2 separate regions of the Homo sapiens genome follow, and region 1 is linked to region 2. Evidence: fine-mapped expression QTL. A gene starts in region 2. The other region holds a variant in brackets. All regions are shown on one strand. Distances are between the middles of the regions.

Evidence for each region. PIP is the estimated chance that this variant, and not a neighbour inherited with it, causes the effect.
Region 1: its variant is the best candidate, but not a certain one, in a credible set for the expression of SGK3 in whole blood (TOPMed, PIP 0.73).

Annotation. Positions count from the first base shown.
Region 1 is chr8:67,302,811-67,305,727 of GRCh38, reverse strand. The region is part of intron 1 of ARFGEF1 (ARF guanine nucleotide exchange factor 1); the gene reads left to right. Among named protein-coding and RNA genes, the nearest start is that of ARFGEF1, 40 kb to the left of the region's middle. The variant A/G (reference allele first, on the strand shown) is at 1,144.
Region 2 is chr8:66,711,189-66,714,052 of GRCh38, reverse strand. It overlaps SGK3 (serum/glucocorticoid regulated kinase family member 3), which reads right to left and starts at 1,272. Exons shown (of 17, transcript NM_001033578.3): 1 at 1,220-1,272. All of the region lies in intron 3 of C8orf44-SGK3 (C8orf44-SGK3 readthrough), which reads right to left. RefSeq lists a silencer at 1,094-1,563.

The DNA.
Region 1 (2,917 bases), 590 kb before region 2:
CATTTGCACCAGTTATTACAAGTTTGCTTAAATATAGCACAATGTATTGGGTAATACACTAGTTTAAGACTAGAAAAACAAGGCCGGGCGCGGTGGCTCACACCTGTAATCCCAGCACTTTGGGAGGCTGAGGCGGGCTGATCACCTAAGGTCAGGAGTTCAAGACCAGCCTGACCAACATGGAGAAACCCCGTCTCTACTAAAAATACAAAATTAACTAGGTGTGGTGGCGCATGCCTGTAATCCCAGCTACTCAGGAGGATGAGGCAGGAGAATCGCTTGAACCCGAGCAACAAGAGCAAGCTTTATCTCACAAAAACAAACAAAAACAACTAGAGAAACAAGTTTCTGGATCACCGCCTATCAGTTATCTGACCTTAGAACTGGCCATTATTTATTCTGATCCTTAGTTTCCCTATCAAGTTGATTGCAGATGTTCAGCTGTAAAAACTGTTCTTCCACTCGTGGGCTGCACAAAAACTTATGGTAGGCTTCTGTTCACCCATGTTTTAGAATATAAGGAACCTTTATTATCTAGTAGTTAGTGAAGTTAGAGTTGTTTCTCATGCTCACAGTTATTTAGTGATATTTGGTATCAAAACACAGTGCTCTTTAAAATGTTTCATTTCCTCTGATATTCCTAGTTAGCGTATAATTTACTTAACTAGAATATCCTATTCTGTAATTATTTTACAAATGGGAATTCACCTTATAACAAAAACTGCCAGCTCCTCTTCTTCCCCTGCCTTGCCTTTTTTCCTGCCTTACTGGTTTGTAGTAGTATCTCAGCCTCTTAAATAATGATAATTTTTTTAAATGAAGAATACTTAAATTATTTTATGATGATTTAGGTCAGTCAACACAGCATTTCCTCCTTATCCATACATTTATTTTATTTTATTTATTTTTGACACAGAGTCTCATTCTGTCACCCAGGCTGGAGCGCAGTGGCGCAATCTCAGCTCACTGCAGCTTCCGCTTCCTGGGTTCAAGCGATTCCTGTGCCTCAGCCTCCCAAGTAGCTGGGACTACAGGCATGCACCGCCATGCCCGGCTAATATTTGTATTTCATGGGGTTTCACCATGTTGGCCAGGCTGGTCTCAAATTCCTGACCTCAAGTGATCGATGTGCCTCGGCTTCCC[A/G]AGGTGCTGGGATTATAGGTGTGAGCCACTGCGCCCAGCCCACACATATATTTTCAAGTGATAAAGATTATTTTTGATTGTATCTGTTGGTGAGCCGTGCAATTTTAGTAACTGATATACAGATCTTAAATATCATTGTGAACCTTTATTAAAGTGGTATTTTAAATAGCTGCAGATAATATTTTTATACTATCTGCCTTCTAGTTCTACCAGTAATAAAATGGAAAGGGGTTTGGTTCACAGAAAACTAAACTGAAATACTGAACATCAGATGCCTGGCACACAGTAGGCAATGAGTAAATTTGTATGTATTGTATGAATAAGTTGTATGGATTGTGCGAATGAATTGTAGAAATTGTATAGCAAGGTGATTTGTCAAAGTCGCTTTTTAAAGGGTTTAATACAGTATCTGGTACGTGAAAGATGCTCAGTTAGTGATAGTGTTAAAAATGTATAGGCCAGTAGTTGTTTATCATACCCCAATTTAGCACAGTTTGTTCAGTTTCTCAGATACACCTATATGGTAGAACGGTTAATAAACCAGAATCTGTAGTTAGATTACCTAATATTGAAACCTGATTAGCCATACGTCCAAGCCATGCAGCCTTTGGACAAGTTGTTCAACCTCTCTTCCTCAATTTTCCAGTCTTTAAAATGAAGATATAATAGTACACACCTCATAGGATTGTTGTCAAACATAAATACATTAGTTGCATGTAAAGTGTAATAGTCTATGTAAAGTTTAGTATATGTAAAGTGTAGTAGTACTTGGCACACATTTGAATACCTTTTTTCCAAATTTCAGGCAGATTTAGTCAATTAGCCAGATTCCCCAATATATTAATTAATTATTATTTTTTTTTTTTTTTAAGAGATGGAGTCTCACTCTGTCGCTGAGGCTGGAGGGTGGTGGTGTGATTTTGGCTCACTGCAACCTCCGCCTCCCAGGTTCAAGTGATTCTCCTGCCTCAGCCGTCCGAGTAGCTGTGGTTATAGGCGCGCACCACCAGCACGCCTGGCTAATTTTTGTGTTTTTAGTAGAGACGATGTTTCACCACGTTGGCCAGACTGGTCTGGAAGTCCTGACCTCAGGTGATCCGCCCACCTTGGCCTCCCCAAGTGCTGGGATTACAGGCATGAGCCACTGTGCTCAGCCAATTAAATTTAAGGGTCTTCTATTACGGGTAGGATTTGTCTAATTTATCTGATACCTTATAGTATAAATAGTGAAAGGGAAAATTTCCCATTAAATTGAGCATGTGTATTTTATAGGGCCTTGTATAGTCATAAATAGAAAAATGAGTTAAATATCAATGCACAAACATATTTAAGAAGTTATAGTTCTGGTCTGATAATCTCCCTGGGGTAATCACAAGGTTGGTGCATTGAGGTGTTTTTCCTCCTGTCCCCAAACATCTGCCGTACATTTTGTGACTTCATTATAGCATACACATTATTCTGTTGTGATTTTTTTTTTTTGGTGGGAGGACAGGGTCTTGTTCTTGTGCCCAGGCTGGATTGTAGTGGAGTCTAGTGGTTATAGCTCACTGTAACCTTTAACTCTTGGGCTCAAGGGACCCTCCCACCTCAACCCCCTGCCCCACATAGCTAGGACTGTAGGCATACACCACCATGCCCAAGCTGATTTAAATTTTTTTTTTTTTTTTTTTTTTTTTTTAAGAGATGGGGTCTTTGTTGCCCAGGCTGATCTCAGACTCCTTGCCTCAAGTGATCCTCCTGCGTTGGCCTCCCAAAGCACTAGGATTACAGGCGT
Region 2 (2,864 bases):
TCTCCAGAGTTAGCCGATGGGCACAACGGCAGTTGAAAGAGACCATGTTACACAAGTCATTCAGGTTCTGGCCAACATCTGCTTTGAACAGGTCGCATTCCCAGGAGCTCCAGGCTCCCTTACCCCAGGGAAATGCTGGGGTGGTGGCTTGTCTTACAGAAGTGGTAGCCAAGGGGACCAGAAGGCACACCCGGTGCTAAAACATGCCTAAAACTTCCTCTAATGTTTACAGCTCTTCCAATGACATTTGGGGAACTAAAGTATGGATAGCCTCTTCATTGCTAGAACCGCTATAATATGATAAGTTAAGAATTTGATTTAATATTTATAAAGAACTTAGAAAGAGCCCAGCGCATAGTAAGGGCTATGTAAGTGTTTGGTAAATAAAAAAAGGCACCTCCCAGATTGGCTGGGTGAAGTCTCAATCTGGTGAGAAGGGAGAGAATCAAAATACACAACAGTCTATTTTTCACTTTGACAAAAGATTTAGAAATTACAGTGCTCTGTATTTATTTTGCACCCAAGTGCACACTAAGTAGTCTCTGGTGCAGGACTGAAATTCTACTCATGGTTCAGAAGTCACTGTGCACAACTCAATGAAAGCGTTTTAAGTTTCAAGAGATGATTCCTTTCTCTTTTCTCTTTCCAAGTAACGATGACTAAAAATGACAGAATCTAAAAATCTCAAAGCACTTCTTGTGGGTACATTCCAAAGCTAAAACTGTGAGAATTAATAGGGCCAGATTCACTTGAAGAGACGTAAGGGTTCAAATTACAGAGAACTTAAAAGACGCAACGTATTAAGGTCTTTTACTACAGATCCGCTGACAACAGGTTAAACGATTCCATCCACCCCACTCTGGCGGCTGCCCCCTCCCCGACCCTCGCAGGTGACCTGCACCCACTTTCGACCTCAGATAGGGTCTCCCTGCTCGGCGTTCCCAGTTCCTCCAGGCTCGGCGGCTGCGTGGGGGTTAACAAGGTCCAGCCACCGACGCCCCTTGGGCGTTTAGGAATCTCGAGGCAGGATCTGAATTCACCTCGTGGAAACAAAGACCACAAACTCTCCGGGAGCCGGGGGCTGGGCGGAGGTACGGCTTTTTCCGAGGACAGGCAGCGGCCGAGGCCCGGGCAGCCCTCGCCCCGCCCCGTCTCCTCCCGCCCCGGGCCGCCGTCGGAGTCCCGGGCGCGCGGACCCTCCCGCCGGCCCCGCACCTACCTGGCCCCGCGGTGCTGCTCCCGGCGCGGCGGGCGCGGAGCCGAACGCACTGCGCTTCCTCCTTCCCGGCAGGGCCGCCGGGCGCCGGCGTTTCCTCCTTGACGCGTCACGGCCGCTGGCGGCTCCTCCCGCGGAGCGCGCGGGAGGCCGAGGACAGCCGGGGAAGGCGCCGGATCCCAGCAGAGCGGCGCGAGCGGCGGGCCGGGGGCAGCCCGTGCGGGGAGGGGCTGCAGGCTGCGTCCCGCTCAGGCCTCCGAGGAAACCCGCGCTCCTCTCTCTTCCCCGAGGACCCCCGCGAAAGGCCGGGCCACGGTGCACCGTCTGCCCCCGTCACGCGCTGTGCAAAGTTCAAGAGGACACAGTGGGTCCTGTCTGGAGTCACAGACTCTGGTGTTTCCCTCTGCTCCGCCCGCAGTGGCCGCTACCCTGGGGCCCAAGACCGGCGCGGGCCAGAGCGCCGGGGCCCAACAGAGATGACCTGGTGTGTGCAGGGATCAGGACCCCCCGGGTGGGCCCGTGGTGTTGGGGGGGTTGGCTTGGTGTAAACTGGAAACTCAGAGGAGTGAATTAAATATCCAAATAATTGAGAACAACTGTGATTCATTTAGCATTATTTGGACAGTTTTCCACTTTTGTCATTAGCAGAGTTACGGCCCTTGTGTTTATAAACAGTCGAGAACTTTCACAAATTGGCAGATCCTGTGTGCAGAGAAATTTCCTTTCCACACATCTTTTTAGATCTACTGACTCTTTTTTTTATTCCCATTAATCTCCAAGTCAGCTGAGTGCACACTTTACAGCTCCTTATTACTCATTCTTGAATTACAGAAGCTGCGTTTTAGATCTGTTTATCTCTTTTAACAGATAGAGAAGCTGAGTGGAGAACTAAGAATTACATGGTTCAATGGATGTGGAGTCAAGTGGTTAAGATTTTGAAGTAGAGTGGGTTGTTTTCTTCGTCCCACAACACTACTGTAATTTAGGTCTTATCAGATATCACTTGAAGATAGACTCAGACAAGTACTTAAAGATTCCCATGTGCATATCATGCCTTAGATTTTGAGACAATGATTTGTACTTTAGATCATATGATTCCAGAGAATTTGCCACAAATCTATGAACAAATAAACTGCCAAAGGTTATTAGAGGAACTGGGATCTATGTGTGACTTCCCTAAATTCAGAAGACATTTCCTCATGTTTTAAAATGATATTCAAAGATTTAGCCCCACAAGTATGGGTTAGGACATTCATTTTTAATGTCAATAACCACAATGTGGCCTCTCTTTAAAAAGTGGATTGTGAATCCAAATACTTTTTGTACTTCAGTAATCCTACAGAACTTTCTAAACAGTAGTTTTCAGAAATGAATATAAGAATGCAGTAGATACAAAACAATACATTGCCGGTGGTCCTTTATATGTTTTACTGTGGTCCACAAAGCAATCCACATACATTAGAGGAGTTCTTCCCTTGTAACAAAATCAACAAGTGATGAGTGTATCTCTTAATTAAAGCCATATTCACAGTGCTGAAGATTTCTCAGACAAAAGGAAGTTCTGTGTCAATAAACTCCAAGTGGAATAACATCATTCTCACTTTAGAGACAAATACCTGGCTATCACCACATCTTGACTTTTTAAAAA